Linked DNA regions of Homo sapiens: regions 2 and 3 are each linked to region 1. The links come from fine-mapping of genetic effects on gene expression. A gene starts in region 1. Each other region holds a variant in brackets. All regions are shown on one strand. Distances are between the middles of the regions. Region 1 holds the start of UEVLD (UEV and lactate/malate dehyrogenase domains). Region 2 overlaps UEVLD (UEV and lactate/malate dehyrogenase domains). Region 3 overlaps TSG101 (tumor susceptibility 101).

Evidence for each region. PIP is the estimated chance that this variant, and not a neighbour inherited with it, causes the effect.
Region 2: its variant is fine-mapped to the expression of UEVLD in whole blood (INTERVAL, PIP above 0.99).
Region 3: its variant is fine-mapped to the expression of UEVLD in whole blood (TOPMed, PIP 0.97).

What each region holds. Positions count from the first base shown.
Region 1 is chr11:18,584,058-18,592,410 of GRCh38, reverse strand. UEVLD (UEV and lactate/malate dehyrogenase domains) reads left to right here and starts at 3,677. Exons shown (of 12, transcript NM_001040697.4): 1 at 3,677-3,798. The coding sequence starts at 3,757. It overlaps LOC112268073 (a long non-coding RNA gene), which reads left to right. Exons shown (of 4, transcript XR_002957242.2): 3 at 1,570-1,875; 4 at 2,131-2,318. RefSeq lists enhancers at 3,560-3,609, 3,515-3,809, 3,870-3,929, 3,970-4,119, 4,520-4,629.
Region 2 is chr11:18,563,706-18,571,705 of GRCh38, reverse strand. UEVLD (UEV and lactate/malate dehyrogenase domains) reads left to right here. Exons shown (of 12, transcript NM_001040697.4): 4 at 1,329-1,492; 5 at 5,224-5,359; 6 at 6,696-6,814. Among named protein-coding and RNA genes, the nearest start is that of UEVLD, 21 kb to the left of the region's middle. The variant C/A (reference allele first, on the strand shown) is at 4,810.
Region 3 is chr11:18,483,758-18,491,757 of GRCh38, reverse strand. TSG101 (tumor susceptibility 101) reads left to right here. Exons shown (of 10, transcript NM_006292.4): 8 at 7,686-7,888. It also overlaps the pseudogene YWHABP2. Among named protein-coding and RNA genes, the nearest start is that of LDHAL6A, 32 kb to the right of the region's middle. RefSeq lists an enhancer at 5,401-5,450 and a silencer at 5,411-5,620. The variant G/A (reference allele first, on the strand shown) is at 3,312.

The DNA.
Region 1 (8,353 bases):
AGGAATATATGCATAAATAATTATGCTAGGCACTGGGAATATAGAGATGAATGAGATTCAACCCCTATTTGCCAGGGCCTTACAGTATCTGAGGACAGAAAGAGGAGTGGAGATGGAGGTAGACAGGTACAAAAGTATAATAAAACACTCCTGGCAGCTACTAAGGTATGAGGCAAGGAAGAAGACAATGTACTTGGGGAAGAGTGAATGTTTCAGCCTAACTGGATTATAGGATCTAATAGCACCAGTTTCAGGAGATGAGGGTAGCCTGGTGGTCAGGATGGAAGTCAAGGGAGAGGCTTAAAAAAAAAAGCCAATTTCAGTACTACACAGCCTTTCTCTTGTAACTGCATAGCAATATAAGCACATAATTCAGACTTTGTAGACCTTTTTTTTTTTGATGGAATCTCACTCTGTTGCCCAGGCTGAATACAGTGGCAAGATCTCGGCTCACTGTAACCTCTGCCTCCCAACTTCAAGCAATTCTCCCTCCCTCAGCCTCCCAAAGAGCTGGGATGAAAGGCACCTGCCGCCACATCCAGCTAATTTTTGTATTTTTAGCAGAGATGAGGTTTCGCCATGTTAGCCAGGCTGGTCTCGAACTCCTGACCTCAGATGATACGCCTGCCTGGGCATCCCAAAGTGCTGGGATTACAGGCATGAGCCACCACACCTGGCTGATTTCCTAGACTATTATTAATCACAAAGTGTCATCACAATTTCACCCACAGTGAGAGGCACTATAACATGTAGTTTAGGAAGACAGTCTTTGACATCATCTTCTGCAGTAATTTAACCTTAGTCTTTGGTTTCCCTATCTGTAAAATGGAGACAATTATATACATATCCTCTATTTCACATTTACATTCTTTTCAAATAGGTGTGTTAAAATCAGTATGTATGTTTAATTTTGTAGTTTTCTTCTCCCCCCAAAAGCTATCATTAATACATCTCTTATTCAACAGAACCTCAGAAACAAGTAAAATAGGTAATATAACAATACACCTCAATTTTCTTATCAGTAAAATTGAGGTAATAATTCTATCCAGGTCATAGGGTCTTATGAAGATGAACGGAGATAAAGCACATAAAACTCTTAGCAGTATACCTTCCACAAAGGAAATGCTACATACACACACACACACTCACTCACTCACACTCTCTCTGGCATAAAGTGTGCATAGTGACTAGACCAGAAGAGAATTGGTTTGGTTGGAAGGCCTCTTTCATAAAAGGCTCTTTCATAAAAGATGGAAGAATCTTGCTCTGGCCTTGCTGCTAACTGGTATCTTTTCCTTATACCACGGATTTCTGGCAGGATCTATTAGAATTTGGAGCCCCTGGCAGTTCTACTGTTTTAAGGTTGGTTAGATCTGGCTGAGATGCACTTAACAGCCCTTCTATCAGCTTTTCTCTGTAATCTTCCTCCTACCTTGTCTTCTGGCCTACTCTTGCCTGACACTACTGCCTCTTCACAACACTGCAGAGTTATTAATATTTTTTTAAAGCTCAGTCAGATCATGTCACTGTTCTGTTCGAAACCTCCCAGTGGCTTTCTCTTTCTCCCAGATTAAAAGCCTGAGAAAGGAAGAGGCAGGCCCTGACATCTGAGAGCTGGTCTGACACAGCTAGACTTCAGGGTTGTTAGAAGCTGGCCTGATGCTCACAGCTTGGCCCAGTTATTCTTCTGTGGGACATAATCTCACAGAACACCAACATGAGACAAGGTCAGTCAGACTATAAAAAAGGGACACAACAACAAGGCCATTTCAAAATTGTGTCTAAGCAGAGACAAGAGAGCAAGGTCACTGTGCAAGCCATGAAATACCAAACGTCCTTCTCTGCTATTATGAGTGACTGCTGCTTCTTTACTAGGTATAGCTTTATCCTCACTCTAGTCTGTCCATCTTATAGACAATACTTATTCAGATACCTAGTCACAGAAATGTCCCTGCTTTCTGACAGCACCCAATCCAGGGTGAAGCCTGGCTTTCTTGAGCCCTCCCGCAAATCGCCCAAATTCTATAATAGGTTCTCTCACCCTCACCAAGCTGTCCCAATGGTCCTCCACAACACCTGCTTCCTCACTGCAAGAACTATTAATAATGAACTCAACTTGTTTAAGCACAGGTGTGTTCCTGATGGTCTCTGGCTGGAGGGCAGGGACAGGCCAGAGTCCTTACAATTGTCTACAAAGTCCCACAGTGGTTCTTGGACTTCATCACCCATCAGAATCATCTGGAAGAATTGTTAAAAGAGAATTGCTGGTCCCCAACCCCAGAGCCTGTGATTGAATAAAGCTGGGGTTGAGGTCTTAGCATCTGCATTTCTAACAACTCCCAGCACCTGAGGCTGCAGATCTGGGGCTCACACTAGAAGACTCACTTCTCTAAACCACTTGTTCCCCCGTCTTATTTCCCTGACTTAGCCTCCTTGTCTCCACTCCCATCTTACTTCATTCTACTCCAGCCACACTGGCCTCCTTGCTGTGTTGAGCCTCCCTGGGCACATGCCTTAGGCTACTGCTTTGTCTGCACTCGGATTCGTAACACTTACTCCCTCACCCCTCAGTGAGACCTACCCCAATCTCCCTACCCTTTTCAGAATTTATTCTCCACAACACGTAATCAACCTTCTGACATGCTGAATAATTTACTTATTACATTTATTGTTTTGCTCTCTCTCTGCTAATAAAGGAATGACACCCTTAAGACATCAGCTATCTGAGTGTATTTTGTTCACGGCTGTATCCTGAGACCTGGAAAAATAGCTGGCAAGTAGTAGATGCTCAACAAAAACTTTCTGAATGAATGTTCCTTCCAGCTTTTCAGCTTCTTCTCCTGAGTCAGGGCAGCACTCCCTTCAGATCTTCCTATAAATACAATCTCTCTCCTATATGTCCAACCTCTTGACAATTACAATATCCAGCTCCTGGGACTTTTCGCTTCAGTGGCTCAGGCCAGGGATACAGGGCAGGTAAGTCAGCCATGGGCCAAGGAGATCAAACAACGCCAGAAAATTACTGTATCCTGCATCTCTTCTTCACCCACCTTCTCCAGATGACCTTATCCACCCATCTCCCTCCTCTCTTGTTTTCCAACTATTTGTTCACCTGGATTTCTCCTCTCTTTGACCACCAACATTGTTATGGCACCCCTAAAAAAAATAAAAAAAGCAACCACTCTCCCCGTGCTAAGCCACCCTCATGCTGGGGCTGTCCTATCTCCGCTTCTCCGGCAAGGCTCCTCCTGACTTTGTTTTTCCTTTCTACTCCCTGAAATTTTGCTTCTGAAGTTCCATTACCGCCTCCTTCCTAAATTCAACTGCAATTTTCGGTCTTGCTCTTTCCTGATACACTGTGGAATTTAATACATCTGTCTGGAAACTCTTCAAGAACACCGCGTGTTGCCTCTACCTCCTTTAGTGCTTCTACTCCGGTCCTTCCTAGTCTTCTCTTCATAAGTGTCCCCAAGTTTCCTTCCAGGAAGATGGGTCGTGGTTTCCTTGACGCCAATGCGTTTCTGGCCGTGCCCTCGTCACTTGCCCACTCCGGGGTCACGAAGGAGAGGCCCCGGATTCCGGGCGCAGCCGCGGCTGAGCCCGGGGCGTTGAATGCGGGTGGAATTTCCAGTCTGGGAAGGGGCGGGGCCTTGGACCGCCGGGAAGTTTGGTCCTCAGCGGCTTCCGTCCTGCAGCAAGTCCGGAAGAAGGTCCGGGGGCTGGAGTCCTGGGACCTAGCTCGGGACCGGCCTGGAGATGGAGTTCGACTGCGAGGGCCTGAGACGGCTGCTTGGCAAGGTGCGGGCAGTCCGCTGGGCCAGTTTGGGTCCTCAGGGTCTTGCGGGGGGTGCCTCTGCCTTTGGCCAGGTTGCCTCCGTTTTGCGTTTCCCGGCTTGTAGTGGGGCTTGGAGCCGGGGCGGCTGGTCTGAAACCGGCTATGGGGCGCGGCCCCAGGGAGGCTGAGGGGACCTGGATTCTGATTTCTCCCGCAACTCTGAGGTTTCCCAACCTCCACCTGGTGCGAGCCCTCCTCATACCCCCAGCTTCACTGACCTCAAACAGCTCCCAGCACACGCCTAACCACGCCTTTCTCTCTTTCTCTCTGCTGAAATGGTCTGCCTTTTTTTTCTTTTTTCTTGAATTGCAAAGCTCATCCTTTGTAAGACCCAACTCAGTCACTCCCTGTAAGATTGAATCAACCCTTCTGTTTTGAAAGATATCGATTATCACATTGTGGAGTAATTATGTATTTACAAACCGTAATCTTGCTGTGAGCCCCTTTGACTGCAGACATTGTGCTTTTGTATTCCCTTCCTCTAGCCACTATGTTTGACAACACCATAGGTACTAAGTAACTGTGCAGTGAATGAAAGACCTGAGTAGATTTAGAGATGAAGACAGAGCTTGAAGGCCCTGGAGAGATCTTAATGTTGGAAGGCTGGGGAGTAGGCGGGCCGACCTAGAAATCTGACCTATATTTCTGAGACCTGACTAGCCTGAGTTTCCGGTGTACAATCTGAGGGAATCCCCGCCAATTTTCTAGTTAAGAAGACTAGTTTTCACCAGTTTCCTAGTTAAGGTGGTTTTTTGTTTTTTGTGTTTTTTTTTTTGACAGAGTCTTGCTCTGTCCCCCAGGCTGGAGTGCAGTGGTGCGATCTAGGCTCACTGCAACCTCCACCTCCCGGGTTCAAGCCGATTCTCGTGCCTCAGCCTCCCAAGTAGCTGGGACTACAGGCGCGTGCCACCATGCCTGGCTAATTTTTGTATTTTAGTAGAGATGGGTTTTCACCATGTTGGCCAGTCTGGTCTCGAACTCTTGACCTCAAGTGATCCACTCGCCTGAGCCTCCCAAAGTGGTGGAATTACAGGTATGAACCACCGCACCCGGCCTTAAATAATTCTTAATGCTTCTTAAGACTTCCTAATGCAGAAACCATAGTTTATGCCATTTTTGTTATACTTGCCTCTTTCTTTGTTGGGGCAGTTTACATACCCGTGGGAGGTTTTGAAGTCCTAAGATTGAAATTGTTTATGTAAGTGACTTGAATGAATTTATCTACTGCGACAGGTGCAGATCTTGTAGGAAGAGAAGTATCATAATGCTACCCTTTCTGTCTCCTCTTCAGAGCATGTGAAATTAAAAGAACCATTCAAGTTTTAATGTGCAGAGGATGATGGATTGTCCGATGGGAAGAATTGTTCAAGTTAAGATTCAAACATAGAGCATATTTTTGGTGGCACTGGAATGAAGGAAAAGAAGAGAGACAATGGTTTTTTCAAGGGTGAGAGTAGAATAGTAGAGGATTTTTTTTTCCCCATCAGTGCATAGCATAGAGTCTGGCACATAGGTAGCTTATTATTATTATTACTGTTTGTTTTGAGACGGAGTCTCGCTCTGTCACCCAGGTTGAAGTGCAGTGGCGCGATCTCTGCTCACTGCCATCTCCGCCTCCTGGGTTCAAGCGATTCTCCTGCCTTAGCATCCTGAGTAGCTGGGACTACAGGCGCCCACCACCAAGCCCGGCTAATTTTTTTTGTATTTTTAGTAGCGACGAGGTTTCGTCATATTGGCCAGGCTGGGGTAGCTTATTATTAATAAGTATTTGTTGGCTGTATAAATTAAGGAAACCAATCAGAAACAAGTCAGTGCAGCAAATATATGAAGTTTCCTGACCATTCACTGCAGTCTGCAAATAATATTGTTTAATATCTAGAAATAATTTTAGTCTAGGCACAGTTACTCATGCCTGTAGTCCCCGCTACTTGAGAGGCTGAGGCAGGAGAATAGCTTGAGCCCTGGTGTTTGAGTATGCAGAGAGCTATGATTGTGCCACTGCTTGCCAGCCTGGGAGACAGAACGAGACCGTGTCTCTAAAAAGTAGAAATAAATGTAAGGCCAGGCACGGTAGCTCACGTCTGTAATTCCAGCACTTTGGGAGACCGAGGCGGGTAGATCACCTGCGGCCAGGAGTTCGAGATCGGCCTGTCCAACATGGTGAAACCCCATCTCTACTAAAAATACAAAAAAATAAGCCAGGCGTGGTGGCCCGCTCCTGTAATCCCATCTACTCGGGAGGCTGAAGCAGGAGAATCACTTGAACCTGGGAGGTGGAGGTTACAGTGGCCCAAGATCGTGCCACTGCACTCCAGCCTGGGCAACAGAGGGAGACCCCATCTCAAAAAAATAAAAAAAAATGAATTTAAAATTTTTTAAAACTTAGAAATAATTTTGTTGCAGAAAAAATCGATGGAGAAGTGATCAGTACATTAAAAAATTAAGCAACTATGGAGAAAGTAAAAAATCTAATTAAATAGATATCCCAGTTTCATAGATGTGAAGATTGTCAGTTCTCTCCAAATTTATCTATAGGGTCAATGCATTTCTTGGAAACTTCAAACTGATTCTAAAATTCATTCAGAAGAGCAGAAGGCCAAGGATAACCTTGACATTATTATGGAAAAAAAATAGATATGAGGGCTGGGTGTGGTGGCTTACGCCTCTAATCCCAGCACTTCGGGAGGCCGAGGTGGGCGGATCACTTGAGGTCAGGAGTTCAAGAGCAGCCTGGCCAACATGGTGAAACCTCGTCTCTCCTAAAAAATGTAAAAACTGGGCATGGTGGTGGGCACCTGTAACCCCAGCTACTTGGGAGGCTGAGGCAGGAGAATCGCTTGAACCCAGGAGACAGAGGTTGCAGTGAGCTGAGAATGCGCCACTGCACCCCAGCCTGAGCCACAGAGCAATACTCTGTCTCAAAAAAAAAAAAATAATAATAATAAAGAAGGAAAGAATAGATGATAGATTTGAGGACCTGCTCTACCAAATATCAGTACTACGGCAAGTAAAATTTAGTGTGGCATTGGTGTGGAATAGACTAACCAGTGAAACAGACTAAAGGGCTTAGAATCGTAGTCACACATGTTTGGAAATGCAATATAAAACAGAAGACATTGCAGATAAATGGCGAAAGGAGAATGGAGAGACAAGTGAATATCCACATGAGAAAAATGAAATTGTACCTTGTATCCCTGCCTTACGCCAAACATAAAAATTTCCAGTGGATTAAAGACCTAAATGTAAAAGACAACTTTAAAACCTAAAAAGATAAATGTTATAGGCTCAGAATATGCAAACCGTTTTAAAATAATACACAAATAAGAGACAAATTCAACTGTATTAAAATTAAGAACAGAAGACACCATGAAGAAAGTGAAGAGGCAGCCAGGTGTGGTGGCTCACACCTGTAATCTCAGCACTTTGGGAGGCCAAGACAGGCAGATCTGTTGAGTCCAGGAGTTTGAGACAAGCCTGAACAATATGGCAAGACCCTATCTCAATTTTTTTAAAAAGAAAATTAAAGAAAGTGAAGAGGCAAGATACAAACTTAGAGAAGCTATCTGTAGCACACATAACTGACAAAGTATTGGTATCTAAAATATATAAAGCATGCCTACAAATCAATATTAGAACCAATAAATAGGCCAGGCATGGTGGCACACACCTGTAATCCCAGCACATTAGGAGGCTGAGGCATGCAGATCACGAGGTCAGGAATTCAAGACCAGCCTGGCCAACATAGTGAAACCCTGTCTCTACTAAAAATACAAAAATTAGCCGGGCATCCTGCAATGGGCCTGTAGTCCCAGCTACTCAGGAGGCTGAGACAGGAGAATCGCTTGAACCCGGGAGGTGGAGGTTGTGGTGAGCTGAGATCACGCCACTGCACTCCAGCCTGGGCAACAGAGCAAGACTCCGTCTCAAAAAAACAAAGCAAACAAAAAAGTAAATAGATAATTGGGCAAAAGATATAAATAAGCATTTTTTAAAAACAGGAATAAAATCACTAATCACATTTCAATTGTTAGTAGCCACATGTGGTTTGTGGCTATCATATTGGACAATGTATGTGTAGATTATTTCCATTATGGCAGAAAGCTTTGTCAGACAGTTCTGTATCATAAGTGGGTGGGTCAATTCACCAGTACTTATTATTCTGCAAAAAGCGTGTGCTTTTTCTTTTTTTTAAAGAGACAGAGCCTTGCTCCGTCTCCCAGGCTGGAGTGCAGTGGTACCATCATAGCTTACTGCAGCCTCAAACTCTTGGGCTCAAGTGATCCTCCTGCCTCAGCCTCTGGAGGTAGCTAGGACCACAGGCAACATCACCACATCTGGCCAATTTTTGTTTTTATTTTTGTAGAGACAGTGTCTTGTTGTGTTGCCCAGGCTGGTCTCAAAACTACTGGCCTCAAGTGATCCTTTGTCCTTGACTGTCCAAAAGTCTGGGATTACAGATGTGAGCCACCATGCCCAGCCAATAAGTATATTCCTTCGTTTATATTAAGTGTTACATTT
Region 2 (8,000 bases), 21 kb after region 1:
ACACCTATCTAAACTTTGTTTACATCCAACTTAAGTTATGTTCTTATGATATAATTCCTTTAAATCTGAGGACTTTGTGCCAGGAGTTCGGACTCTTCAGTGCTGAATTACTAAAAGCTAGATGTGCAGGGTAGGAGTCAAGGTATTTGCTGATAGGAAAGAGGGAAGGAAGAAGAGACTAGTGAACTAGTGGTGAAATCTTAACGTTTAGACACAGGAATCTGAGTCACCAGGTGCTTTGCCAGTCATGGGCTGTTAAAATGCAAGAATACTGCTGGGGAGGGGCATTGGTGGAGGCAGATCCTTGATCAACCAGGGGAATACCTTCAATAGACATTTTTTGTTTTGTTTTGTTTTTTTGAGACAGAGTCTTGCGCTGTCACCTGGCTGGAGTGCAGTGGCGCAATCTCGGCTCACTGCAACCTATGCCTCCTGAGTTCAAGCCATTCTTGTGCCTCAGCCCCCCAAGTATCTGGGATTACAGGTGCTTGCCACCATGCCCGGTTAACTTTTTGAATTTTTAGTGGAGATGGGGTTTCATCATGTTGGTCAGGCTGGTCTCAAACTCCTGACCTCAAGTGGTCAACCCACCTTGAAAGTGCTGGGATTACAGGTGTGAGCCACCACGCCCGGCCTTCAATAGACATTTCTTTCCTTTTCTTTAATGTGTAGTGATTAATGTAGGAAGTGACTCCATCAGGATTTGGGCTGCCACTCTGGCTATATTAGTAAACATTTTTGAAAATTTGATTTTTTTTTTTTTTTTGAGAGGCAGGGTGGATGATTTGGCCATTGTTTTAATTAAACTTACTCAAATGTTATACCAGTGATCTAATAGGAACATATTTCCAATGTGAATGTGGATGAAATGGGGGGGAATAGGCCTTGATTAACATTAATCCTTTATATGTAAACCTGACTAGACTGCTCATTTCTTTTCTTTTTTTTTTTTTTTTTTTTGAAACAGTGTCTTACTCCGTAACCCAGGCTGGAGTGCAGTGACACAATCATGGCTTACTGCAAACTTCACCTGCCAGGCTCAAGTCATCTGCCCATCTCAGCCTCCCCAGTAACTGGGACTATAGGTGTGTGCCACCACACCCAGCTAATTTTAAAATTTTTTGTAGAGATGGGGTTCCTCCATGTTGCCTAGGCTGGTCTGAAACTCCTGGGCTCATGCAATCTGCTCACCTCAGCATCCCAAAGTGCTGGGATTACAGGCTTCAGCCACCACCCCAGCCTACTCATTTCTTAAAATGCCGCCTAGCTATATCATAATGTGTGTGCTTTATTATTGTTTGAAGATATGTTTCTTTTGTCTCAAATAGGTAATACATATAACATACCAATTCGTTTCTGGATTTTGGATTCTCACCCTTTCGCTCCCCCTATTTGCTTCTTGAAGCCAACTGCAAATATGGGAATCTTAGTCGGAAAACATGTGGATGCTCAAGGCAGAATATATTTGCCCTATCTCCAAAACTGGAGCCATGTAAGATCAATTTGGATTTTCTACAGAAAGCTTTTTTTTTTTTTTAAATACCTATCATTGATTCTGCTGGTACAAATAAGTATGATACTGCATTTTCTTTCAATGATATTCTTCATGTAGTCTTTGGAAGTAATTTGAAATTGAGCTCTCTAGGGTTACCCAAGTCCCAGAACCCTGATGACAACTGCCTGTACAAAGCTGCTCCCTCCAGGTTTTGGAGCCAACTGTTTGCTCCCTGTCTTTTTATAGTCGTTTCCCACTTGAGAAAGTACAGGAGGAGCTACTAGCAAGTGATTGGGGCATTATTTCCAAGTCCCTTCCTATTACAGATTTTTATGTTATATTTATTTGTAGTTTTGCCTGTTTTTGACTTTCATATAAGTTGAATCATACTGTATGTAATCTTTTGTGACATGCTTTGTTTTAACCAATATTAAGTTTTAAAAAGTCATCCACATTGATCTATATAACTGTAGTATTTGTTTTATGTCCTCATGTTATGTAATTTTGTATTCTGCATTTTTCATTGACCATTATATTGAGCATTTCTCCATGTTAAACCATTTTCAAAATACATGGTTTTTAATGGTTACCTGATGACAGCATAAGGATATTGCGTATTGTATTTACAAATTGCCCTAACGTAAGACATTTAATGATGAACATCTTTAAATGTAAATGTTTGTATATATCTAATATATCTTTGATACTTCCGTAATGATAAATCTCTTGGAGTAGAATTATTGGTCCAAAGGTTTTCAATATTTTCAAGATTTTCTTATATATTACTAAATTGGCCTCCAAAAGGGTACACAAAATGATACATTTCTATAATCAGTAGAAATCAGTGTAGGAGGGTACCTATTTTACAGTACCTTTTCTCTAATAGAAGGTATTATCCTTAAAACAAACCTTTGCTTATCTTCTATACATTGGTTTAGACAGATGTATAGTATTCTCTCATTTTTGTAAATAATTAAAAATCTGTATAAAAGGATAATTTATAATATGTTTATATGAGGCCAGGTGCAGTGGCTCACAGCTGTAATCCCAGCACTTTGGTAGGCCGAGGCGGGTGGATCACGAGGTCAGGAGATCGAGACCATCTTGGCTAACGCAGTGAAACCCTGTCTCTACTAAAAATACAAAAAATAAGCCAGGCGTGGTGGTGGGCGCCTGTAGTCCCGGCTACTTGGGAGGCTGAGGCAGTAGAATGGTGTGAACTCAGAAGGTGGAGCTTGCAGTGAGCCAAGATTGCACCACTGCACTCCAGCCTGGGCGACAGAGCGAGACTCCGCCTCAAAAAAAAAAATATGTTTATATGTACCAGAAAGCTAGTAGGGCTGGAGGACAGGGGTATATTGGAGTCCAGTGAGGTTGGAGTAAAGAATGCCTTAGGATTATCACTTTTTATTTTATAGACAGCTTATAAAAAGGTGTATAATTGTAGATGCATTTTACTTTGTTTTATGGTTTTCTATATTTTTATATAGAAAACATTTAAAAAGAAGAAAAAAGAAATAGAAAAAACAAAGGACATACTTCGGATTATCAGTAGTAGGAGTTGACATTTTACTTTGTGAACATTTATGTTATTTGCATTACCTGATGATTTAAATAAGATTGCCAGTTAAATGTGATGAATGGGGCATAATAAAAATTTGTCAGTTGGAAGGACAAAAATGGATCTTACTCTTAATTTTCAGTTGTTTGGTTATTTGAGAAATTGAAATCATTTTCATTTACTTATCAATCGTACGTTTCTTCCTTTTTGAATTGTCTGTTTCTCTCCTCCATCCATTGTTACACCCTTCTTTAAACAAAACAAAACAAAACTATCCTCGAGTAGTATTTTGACATCTGTACCATGTTGCAGGAATTCATGTATCCTGTTTCTTCTCTCTGGTTTTCATTGGCATCTCTTTTCATAATTTTGTTTGTTTAATAAATCCTCGGGGATAGTCTTATAATCTAGTGAAAGTTGTGTTTAATTTTAGTTTAGACAGTTCTGATTTTATTTTACTGTTCTGAGCCTCTTTATTATAAGCTAAAACTAGTCTCTTTTTTTGAGACAGGGTAATGCTGTCTTCACCCGTGCTGGAGTGCAGTAGCACAATCATAGCTCACTGTACCCTCAAATTCCTGGGCTCAAGTGAGTTTCCCACCTCAGCCTTCTGAGTAGCTGGGACTACAAGCATGGTCTACCATCCACTACTAATTTTAAAATTTTTTGTACAGACAGGATCTCCCTATGTTGTCCAGGCTGGTATTGAACTCCTGGGATCAAGGCATCCTCCCACCTCAGCCTCCCAAAGTGATGGGATTACAAGTGTGAGCCACAGTGCCCCCACTTAAAACTAGTCTTAAAAAGACATTACATTATTTAAATTGCCCTATTTAAAAGTACTGCAGCACCTTTAAGTTCCACATGCAGTTGGAATTATAATTATGTAGCATAATTTTATAGAACTTTGGAGCTAGAAGGAATCTAGAGGTCATCTAGGCCAGGGTTTGCAATTTCTCTGAGAGATTCAGAGGGCCGCGTTAGGCCTATGGAATTTGTTTGAACAGCACAGTTCGTTTTGTTTTACCTTGTTTTGTTTTGTTCTTAATGTAAATTTGAATGCCTATTGGCATGCTGTTTCCAATTTGCCACAATAACCGTCTCTCCAGATTTTCTTGTACTTGCCAGCTTCACACATTTAACGTTACCTGCTTGGTCCCCAAAGGTATTTGAATTCTTGGCCCTAATAGCCTCTTCTTACTTTATAAATAGTGAAACTCAGACTCTGAGAAATTAAGCACTTTTTAAATGAGCATACTACTAAATATTCCCAGGAATAATAATAAACATCTGTTTTACACTCACGGCGTATAGTTTGCATTCATTGACTCATTTATTGCTCATAACAACCATTTGGGATTTATTATTCACTTTGTATTACTGATGACACTGAAGCTCAGAAAGGTTAGTGAATTTCATCAAGGTTGCTTAACCAATTACATTAAAAGAATACAGTACCAGATTAGATACTATTAGTGTTAATTTTCTGATTTGATAACGGTTAAAAGGAGAATGTCTTTTTCTTTTAGGAAATATACATTAAAGTACTTAGGGGTAAAAGGACATCATGTTTGCAGTTTACTTGTTCAGTTTGTTCAGAAAAACTAGAGAGAGAAAGACTAAACAAGCAAATGTGATCAAATGTTAACATTTGAGTAATCTAGGTGAAGAGTATATGTACTATTTTTGCAACTTTTCTGTAAGTCTGAAATTATTTCAAAATGAAAAGTTAAAAAAAGGAGAGTTCCTAAAC[C/A]TAGGTATTCGGCTATTAAGCATATTCATGCTATTTTTCTACTTTTGGGAAATGTTGAATTAGCATTTCTTCTTCCTTTATTTTTCAGTTAAAAGTATTCAGTAATTTTTCATGAAAAGCATTACAACAGTTAAAAGTATCATATAATGTGTATGATGATTTTTGAAAAATGAGAACATGATTGAATGCTTCTTTTTGACTAACTCTAAAAGAATGTATAGGTTAAAAAAGATTTTTTGTTTGTTTTGTTTGGAGATGAAGTCTCATTCTGTTGCCCAAGCTGGAGTATAGTGGTGCAACCATAACTCACTGCATCTGAAACTCCTGGGCTCAAGTAATACTCCTGCCTCAACAAAGGTAGTATTCTTCAGCAAAATTTTTGTGTAACTTTTCTGTTTTTTGTGTATTCTACAGCCTAAATCTGTCATTGTTGGATTAATTAAAGAAATGATTGCCAAGTTTCAAGAGGAACTTCCCATGTATTCTCTATCATCATCTGATGAGGCACGGCAGGTAGACTTGCTAGCCTATATTGCAAAAATCACTGAAGGTTTGTATATTTGTCAGGCAGATTATCTTGAGAGTTATGAGTTACCAGTTTCTCACTAAACTCCTTTACTTTCTGCCACTTGATTTTTATAAATAAATTTGTGTGCGTATGTACATCTGTTTTTGAAATAAGAAATTCCTGTGCCTCAGGCCAGGCGCAGTGGCTCACTCCTGTAATCCCAGGACTTTGGGAGGCTGAGGCAGGCAGATCACCTGAGGTCAGGAGTTGGAGACCAGCTTGGCCAACATGGTGAAACCCTATCTCTACTAAAAATAAAAAAAGTAGCTGGGCGTGGTGGCAGGTGCCTGTAATCCCAGCTACTTGGGTGGCTGAGGTGGGAAAATTGCTTGAATCCGGGAGGCAGAGGTTGCAGTGAGCTGAGATTGAACAACTGCACTCCAGCCTGGGCAACAGAGCAAGACTCCATCTCAAAAAAAAAAAAAAAAGAAAAAAAAAGTAATTCCTTTGCCTTTATCACAGGGTATTACCATGTAATTCCAATAAATATTATTTATTTTTTTATTTTTTTGAGATGGAGTCTCGCTGTGTCACCCAGGCTGGAGTGCAGTGGTACCATATGGGCTCATGCAACCTCTGCCTCCTGGGTTCAAGCGATTCCCCTGCTTCATCCTCCCATGTTGCTGGGACTACAGGCATGCCCAGCCAATTTTTGTATTTTTGATAAGAATGAGGTTTTGCCATGTTGGCCAGGCTGGTTTTGAACTCCTGACCTCAGGTGATCCTCCCGCCTTGGCTTCCCAAAGTTCAGGGATTACAGGCATGAGCCACCGGGCCTGGCCAGGTTTCTTAAAGTGTAAAGAATTGGTCTTAAACAGATAAAACAATTCTTGTTCAAAACCACTTGCTGTATATTAATGATCCCAAACTTTTTTTCATGATATGTATATGTGGCTTGTTGGCTTATTCAATATATTGGATCAGAATATCTATGATTCTCATCAAGAATAAAGGCAAATACCTATGTTTGAAACATTTGGTAAGGTGTTAGACATATTTTTTTATTGTAGACCAGAGCAATGAGTTGGAATATTTTTCAGAATTATGGAAATCCTACTTTTTTAGAGTCTTATACAATATTTTAAAAATGTTTAGAAAGATACATTCTCTTTAGAAGGATAATTTCTATTTAGTCGACTATTTAATAGGAAACGTCTGCCTTCCTTGCATTCATTTGTTCAGTAGTATTTTTTGCCCATTATGGACTAGCACCATATTTTCTCTCTAAGCTATGAAGCCTGCTATATATTTTTTTTAAAGATCCTAAAAAAATTCTTGATATTTTTGAATTCTCAGGATAATTCACCTTTCTTTCTAGGTGTTTCAGATACAAATTCAAAGAGCTGGGCAAATCATGAGAATAAAACAGTCAATAAAATTACTGTGGTTGGAGGTGGAGAACTCGGTATTGCCTGCACATTAGCAATTTCAGCAAAGGTATGTAAACATAGTGGTTATAAATACATCTATCATAGTGCCACACTTCTAGGCAGGTTGTGTTTTACACACCAAAAAATGCCTTCATTTTGTCGTGGGAAAACCTTATTTTGGCTTAAAATATATTTAGTAAGTTGACAAAAAAGTTGAAAGCTTTCATCAGTGATGTTGCCTTTTAATTAGTAGGTTTAAAAAAGTGATTTGAACAATGGGCTTATCCTCATCCAAGGGAAAGCTCAATTTGACATTCATATGACTTAATCACAAATTCTTTTGTATTTTCTGAATCATGCCACTTTAATTAAACTCATTTAATGTAGTAATTTTAGCTCTTTCTAAAATTGGCTTTTTTTTTTTTAAAGATGGCCTTTTCTTACATAATTACTTTCTTTTAGGATCACAGTTTCTGAGTTGATATTTAATACTAGTTTAGGGTTTGTTTTTTTCATCAGTCCTTTTTACTAGTGTCTGCATAAATTGTTTGCAGGAAAGCTTAAATGCCCTTCCAGAGAGGTTCAAAAGACCTGCCTGCCTCCCTCCAGAGCCTAGTATCATGATAACAGCATGTCTTTTGTCATTTGAGAGATGTAGCCCTGAATAGAATAGCTGTACCTCTATATATTTATTTGGTGGCTGGCATTAGTTTTTCTTTTCTATATATATTTGATTGTTTTGCCATCTAAATTCTTCCCTTTCCATTTAAGACTCACATATGTCTTGGAGGTGGGTTCTACTGCAGCAAATAATTAAATTATATCCATGGAGCTAGAATATCTTAAAAGCTGGCTGCTCAGAGTTAAATATGCCAACTTTTGGCATGCTGTAGTTTTATTTCTTTCACCCTCCATTTGAATACACTATCACCTCTTTTTTTTTTTTTTTTTTTTTAGGTGGAGTCTCGCTCTGTTACCCAGGCTGGAGTGTAGTGGTACAATCTTGGCTCACTACAGCCTCCGCCTCCTGGGTTCAAGCGATTCTCCTGCCTCAGCCTCCAGAGTAGCTGGGACTACAGGCATGCGCCACGACGCCCAGCTAATTTTTGTATTTTTAGCAGAGACAGGGTTTTGCCATGTTGGCCAGGCTGGTCTCGAACTTCTGACCTCAAGTGATCCACCTGCCCTGGCCTCCCAAAGTGCTGGGATTACAAGTGTGAGCCACCGTACCTGGCCTGCTATTACCTCTTAAT
Region 3 (8,000 bases), 100 kb after region 1:
AAGGACCTGTAAAGTTTGGAAGTTCACAAAACCACCTGCACTTCTGACACTCATTGCAAGTTCATGGTTTCCCAAGGCCACCCTAAAGTTCTATAATTATCTAGAAGGACTTTAAAAGCTCACTGAAAGCTATTATACTCACAGTTATGACTTATGGCAAAAGATACAGATTAAAATAGGCTGAGGAAAGACACGTGGGCAACCCAGAAAGTTTCAAGTGCAAAGCTTCTAGTTGTCTTCTCCCAGTGGAGTCATAGGCAGTGCTGACTTTTCCCAGTAACAGTATGTATCATTATGCATGGAGTATTACCCACCAAGGTAGCTCACCTGAGCCTTGGGTCTAGAGTTTTTATCAGGACTTGGTCATATAGACACCATTGACTGCCTGTGAGGCTGACCTTTAGTCTCCAGCTCCTCCAGAGGTTGAGCTGTTACCTATCACTGCATGGCCCAGACCCCCCCATAAATCACACTGTTAGACTGTCTGGTGTAGATAAAGAACACTCTAATTAGTCAGGAAGTTCTGAGGGCTTAGACATCACCTCCAGGAGCCAAGGGCAAAGGCGTGGCCTCTCTGGGTAAAGTTAATTCTTTACTACACAGAACCAAGCTGTAAGGCATTTTGCCTTATTTTGCTTGAACTTTAAAAATATCCGAATACAGGAGCTGCTGCTACCGTCGCTGCAGCCACGGCAGGCACCGCCACCGCTGCCAGAGGAGTGGGCTTGGGAAAGAAGTGGTCACCTCACTTGGAGCTTTGCTCAGAAGCATCCTCGTCCCCTGCAGCCCTCCCACGGGAACGACTGGATAAAAGTGAGCTGGTACAGAAAGCCAACTCACTGAGCAGGCTGAGCGCTATGATGATATGGCTGTAGTCACGAAGGCAGTCACAGAACGAGGCATGAATACTCCAACGAAGAGAGAAATCTGCTCTCTGTTGCCTACAAGAACATGGTTGGTGCCCGCTGCTTTCCTGGCATGTCTTCTCCAGCATTGAGCAGAAAACAGAGGAATGAGAAACAGCAGCAGATGGGGAGAGAGTAGCATGAGAAGATAGAGGCAGAACTGCAGGACATCTGCAATGACGTTCTGGAGCTGTTGGACAAATATCTTGTTCTCAATTCTATACAACCATTTTCTATTTGAAAATGAAAGGAGATTATTTTAGGTATTTTTCTGAAGTGGCATCTGGAGACAACAAACAAACCACTGTGTGGAATTCCCAGCAGGCTTACCAGGAAGCATTTGAAATTAGTAAGAAAGAAGAAATGCAGCCTACACATCCAGTTTGACTTGGTCTGGCACTTAATTTCTCAGTCTTTTACTATGAGATTCTAAACTCTACTGAAAAGGCCTGCAGCCTGGCAAAAACAGTATTTGATGAAGCAATTACTGAATTGGATACACTGAATGAAGAGTCTTATAAAGACAGCACTCTGATCATGCAATTACTTGGGACAGTGTTACTCTGTGGACATCGGAAAACCAGGAAGATGAAGGAGATGCTGGGGAGGGAGAGAAGTAATGTTTCTTGTGCTTTGTAATCTGTTCAATGTCACTCTGTACCCTCCACGTATATCCCTTGTGTGGTAAAAAATAATTGTATGTTGACTTTGGATTTTTCACAGCCTCAGCCTAGCAAAAATGGTTCATGGGATAAACAGCTGGTGTTTGTATTCTAAAACTCAGATTGGTCACATAAATGCCACGGCATTCTGAAGTTTTGATTTTGATTAACATTGACAGGATTACTGTGTGTTTAATTTTTTTTAATTCAACACTGTGATTATGGGGTTTTGTAATTTAGCAAAACTCTTACTTGTAGAAAAAATAGACCTGAATTATGTGTAACTTTTTGGAAAGTTTAATCTGATACCAGAATCATTGAAATACAATTCCATTGTAAAGTTGTACAGAAGGTTATAGAGATTATATTATGATGCTAGAACCTGGAGTGAGACACACATCATTTGGCATTTGAGTTTAATGGTAATTCATAGTAATGCTGCCTGTTGTTTGGCACTTAAAGACACTTGACCTGTTTGGGCTGTTGCCACTCAAAAGTTCATGACCACAGATGTCCACAGTGTCTTCCTCTGAAGAAACTCGAATCCTGAAATTTAAATTCTTTGTGGCAGATAACTGGCTTATGACACCTTGAAAAGTCCAAGTGCTCATATAACACACCTGACTAAATCCCCTTTTCTACTGCAGTGTGTTCACTTTGTTACCAATTTGCAACTTGTGCTTCAATAATGGAATCTATTTTCATTGTTAACACTGAGCTAAAGAAAAGCCATGTGTTTTATGAATGACCTTATCTGTTTCCTGGATAATACCTTTAAGAATAATCTTCTGAGTCAGGCATGGTGGTGTAGGCATATAGTCCCAACTACTTGGGAGGCCGAGGCAGGAGGATCGCCTGAGCGTAGGAGTTTAAGGCTGCAGTGCCCTGTGGTTGCACCTGTGAAATAACCGCACTCCAGCCTGGACAACGTAGGGAGACCTCATCTCCAAAAAAAAAAAAAAATAGAATGATGTTCTGTAGAGATTGCCTTTCACTTGAGGAGTACTGAATTTCCTGGCTTGGGGCTTTTAAATTTTGAAATCAAAACATTCTTTCCCACCATCCTTTTTTTTTTTTGAGATGGAGTCTTGCTGTGTTGTCAGGCTGGAGTGCAGTGGCATGATCTCGGCTCACTGCAACCTCCGCCTCCCGGGTTCCAGCGATTCTCCTGTCTCAGCCTCCCAAGTAGCTGGGACTACAGGCACGCACCACCACGCCCAGCTAATTTTTGTATTTTTAGTAGAGATGGGTTTTCACCATGTTGATCTCGATCTCTGGACCTCATGATCCACCCGCCTTGGCCTCCCAAAGTGCTGGAATTGCAGGTGTGAGCCACTGCGCCCGGCCCCCCATCATCCTTTTTGACTGTTGACTTTGGTTTTCCCTTCCCTCCTCTCTAAATTTCTGTCCTTCTGCTTCCTTCCTTTTTTTGCTTTTTGAATTCTATCTTTACCTGTCTTTTGTTCACTTTTTAATGCTGTATATGGGCAGGGGTGAGAGACATTAGTGAGCAACTTGGTGAGCAAGCCTGGCTTTAAAGACTTGAGAAGAACTTCTAGCACCAGAGCTCTGTCTTCCTCCAGTTCTCAACACGGTGTTGCTCTTTAGTCATACCAGGATCTGAATCAAAAAAGTATTTTTAAATATCCCTGACTTCTCCCTGTATTGAGGCTGGCCCTGATCATGCTTTTTAGTGCCCCTCACCAGGTCTCCCAAGTGCACTTATCCAGCTCAACTCTCAGAT[G/A]TGTTTTAACGAGACCCTATATTCAGGGAAGTTGTGTGGACACTGCAGTGGAGAGAATTGATAATAGGCCTATCAGTCTCACAATATCACCCCTCTACCTTTAACATTCCATCTAGCTGTAGAGTCCATCTGTTTGTCCATCTGCTGAAATGAGAAAAGAAAACCTCATGCACTGATTTAAAACAAACCAAAAAAAGAAAAAAAACAAAAATCCCTCCTTTCTAACTGAACAAAAATGTGCAGTTAATAGTTGGCCCTTGAAAATGCAGTAGTGAATGTGGAGCTAAGCCTGTTTGTATATCTGGTAGCTCTTTTCTTGCTTTGTTTTTCCTTAACCAGTATTCTGCCTAATGTTTTCTTCTGTGATGGTTATATTGTCTAGCAAGCACACCTGTGGTTGTGAAAATAGTATAGCAAAAAAGAAAAATCCTGTTACTGATGTACTAGGTTTGTGTATGTCTTTTAAACAGTTCCAGTTTCACCTTACACAGAATAATCAGGAAAAGTGTAAAACTTCAAAAGTGAAATAAAAATTTTATCAGTTAAAAACAAAAAATACCCAAATACAAAAAAAAAAGATCTACCAAAAGCTTCCTGCCTAATACTGTAATTTGAAGATGAGATGGGCAACATGGAGCAATGGAAAAGGAGGATGTATGCTCACTGAAGCATGAGCTGGGCCACCACTCCTGTTACAAACCAGGAATTATAGCAGATTCCTATACTTTGAGGTTTTTTTGTTTCTTTTGTTTTTGTTTTTTGCAATAGCAAATAGGTGGGATGCCAGGCACAGTGGCTCATGCCTGTAATCCCAGCACTCCAGGAGGCTGAGGAAGGAGGATAGCTTGAGCCTGGAATTTGAGACCAGCCTGAGCAACATAGTGAGACTACCTCTCTACTAGAAAAAAAATTTTAATGGTTACAGAAACGATCTAATGTTTTTTCTTCCTTGTGTTAAGGTGTTTTAGTAAAGTTTTCTCAAATTATATTGCATTTTACATTTTTTCTAATCCTTTGAATTTGTTGTGAGAGACCAAAATTATAAATCAGTTTTCCCCTCCCTGCCAAAAATGGAAACCAAAGCAAGTCCAGGAGATTGAATTATGGTAATTATGGTAGTATTCTTTGTTAAAGAATTTGGATGTTCCCTTGGGAACAGAAATTTTTTTTTCTTTTTTTTTTTTATTATACTTTAAGTTTTAGGGTACATGTGCATAACATGCAGGTTAGTTACATATGTATACATGTGCCATGTTGTTGTGCTGCACCTACTAACTCGTCATTTAACATTAGGTATATCTCCTAATGCTATCCCTCCCCCCACCCCACAACAGGTCCCGATGTGTGATGTTCCCCTTCCTGTGTCCATGTGTTCTCATTGTTCAGTTCCCACCTATGAGTGAGAACATGCAGTGTTTGGTTTTTTTGTCCTTGTGATAGTTTGCTGAGAATGATGGTTTCCAGCTTCATCCATGTCCCTACAAAGGACATGAACTCATCATTTTTTATGGCTGCATAGTATTCCATGGTGTATATGTGCCACATTTTCTTAATCCAGTCTATCATTGTTGGACATTTGGGTTGGTTCCAAGTCTTTGCTATTGTGAACAGTGCTGCAATAAACATATGTGTGCATGTGTCTTTATAGCAGCATGATTTATAATCCTTTGGGTATATACCCAGTAATGGGATGGCTGGGTCAAATGGTATTTCTAGTTCTAGATCCCTGAGGAATCGCCACACTGACTTCCACAATGGTTGAACTAGTTTACAGTCCCACCAACAGTGTAAAAGTGTTCCTATTTCTCCACATCCTCTCCAGCACCTGTTGTTTCCTGACTTTTTAATGATCACCATTCTAACTGGTGTGAGATGGTATCTCATTGTGGTTTTGATTTGCATTTCTCTGATGGCCAGTGATGATGAGCATTTTTTCATGTGTCTTTTGGCTGCATAAGAAATTTTTAAAGAATTTAACTGCCGAAGGGGCTTAGCCCTGAATTATGGTGGCTGGTTGGGCAGAATTGTTTGAATGAAGTGAAGCAGTGATAGTGTTGATGATGCAGGATTTTCTTCTCAGTCACTCTGCAAGCCAGGGACCTCTGACGAGCGACACCCTGCCTGGGCCTCCCTCAGCCATGCTACCTGCTGCCAGAGACAGCCCTCCCATTCGGCCCACTTGGGCCGAGTCTGGCTTACCCGCTGGTTCCCGAGTTCTTGTCCTGTGCCCACAAAGAATGGGGATGCACTGACAATCAAGAGTGAGCAAGACAGGGAGTTTTATTGACTGATGAAAGAGCTTTCACTGGAGAGGGGATGCAGGGGTGGTTCCCCTACCCAAAGGTGGGAAAGTCCCCTCTAAGTGGCTGAGTCCTGCGGCTTCTTACAGGCTCAGAATAGGGGAAGGGCAGGCCATAGGTAGTATTGGAAAAGGCAACATTTGATTGGTTAAAAGGCATTATTGAGGAAGAATCAATGGGAAAGGGTGGGCAAACAGGAATAGAAGTTCTCACTCTAGGTCAGGGGTTTCATCCGGGACCAGCAGTCCAATCTTTCAGCCTTCAGGCTGTTTTTGGCTTGAAGGTGGCGTTTCACCGGGGACCCACCCCATCTGCCTCAGCATTTGGCTGCCTCCTGTTGCTGTTAATGAAATCCATAATTTTAAATATTTTACTCTATTAATGACTTTTCAGCACTGTTTCCAACCACATGCCTTCAAAGCAGTAGAGCTTCAGCAGTTCATTTTTCTGATTTTCAGGTAGAGATATTGATGAGTTCTTTCATTTGGTTTAATACCACCATACCATTTATTTTGGAGAGCGCTCATATATTTATAAACAATTTTAATAATTACCTTCTTCTACATTGCAGCAGAAGACAAGAGAAGGGAAGTTTCCAAAAAAGCACATTCTAAGGACTTCTAACCATCTGAGGCCTTTTCTCTAGGACTCCTAGAAGATAACCAATTCTGTTGATTTCAGGAGATCATTCAGCAACAGTTTGCCACCCTTAACATTTAGTATTTAGGCTGCATAATAAGGATTATAGAGACCTTTCCTTCAGAAAATAGGTTATTAAACTAATAAATATAGTGATAACTGTTAAGAGAGAGCAGATTCTAGTTGTTGTGCTGACGTTTTGGGAATTATGGTTAATGGAGGAAAGATCATTGGCAAAGATTAGGTTTCACCATAATTTAATGGTAGAGAGAAGATGGGATCTGATGTTCGAGAGCATTAAACTTTTTTGTTAGTTTAGAATGGCTTAGAGTTTGTTGACAGAGTTTGTTGATGGTTTTGGTAAAAAGCAGGATCATCTAACAGGTAATTAGAAGACCCAGGTAATTCACAAGGCCCTTCAGGAAGTTTGCTTCCCAGCTACTCGGGAGGCTGAGGCAGGAGAATCGCTTGAACTCAGGAGGCAGAGGTTGCAGTGAGCCGAGATCATGCGACTGCACTCCAGCCTGGGTGACAGAGTGAGACTCCATCTCAAAAAAAAAAAAAAAAAAAAAGGCGGCAATTAAGGTTAAATATACTTAACGTCCTCACGTAGTATTTTATAATCAAACATAATTAAAAGTCAAAATGCCATTTACACATTTGCTGATTTGGGACAATAACTGAAGAACACTGATAGTCATAAAGAATACCCAAACTTATATTAGAAAGGGGACCTTTTTGAAGAAAATATCCAGAGGATGTTTATTTGATCTGAAATATGCATGGAAATGATATAATATACTGATTAGGAAGGGACATTTGGAAGAGAATAGTAAAGAATCTGGGAATAAACAGTTTATCAGCTGTTGAATTTTTTGGATGTCATTCTTTTTTGTTCATCTGTTCTGTCCTGTTGGTAAAGGGTGAAGTAGTAAAAGTCTTACAGAGGGAAGCCTTATTAACCTGTACATTCGTTTAGGGAAACTGCCCATTCTCAGTCCTCTCACTGGCCTCTACAGTGGGCACTTGTCTCCTTCAGCTTAGCAGCGAAGCCTGATGTTGGACTTGGCCTGCACCAAATGTTTTTCCTTAGTGGAAATTATTGTGCCATTTGTTGGTTATTTAGGAATAATTGTAATTGGTAGGGACATAGCCTCTGTCTCATTGAGAAAATAACTAATTGTAGCTAATTGTTTGGGCTATGAATAGGGAAACTGGGTTTAACATGGATTAATAGTAATCTCTTGTAGGGCAAGTATTTCTGAATCAACTCAGATTTTTACATTATTTCTCATGAAACTGGTAACATAATTTTTTTCTTTCCTCACATTTTGAAAGTGTCGGTTCATATTGCCCCCTTTTCTGAAGGTTCCTGTGAGACAAATAGAAGGAACTTGGGAAGTAAGCAAGTGTTTTTTGCCTCTGTTTCCTGCAGGTCCCAGTAGGGATGGCACAATCAGCGAGGACACCATCCGAGCCTCTCTCATCTCTGCGGTCAGTGACAAACTGAGATGGCGGATGAAGGAGGAAATGGATCGTGCCCAGGCAGAGCTCAATGCCTTGAAACGAACAGAAGAAGACCTGAAAAAGGGTCACCAGAAACTGGAAGAGATGGTTACCCGTTTAGATCAAGAAGTAGTAAGTGACTCATTAAAGACTTAAAATTTTTGGATTGAATTGTAGCCATGGCAGAGTGTTCTATATGTTCCCTGGATGTTGTGGGCATAGTAGGAGTTCAGAAAATTATAGG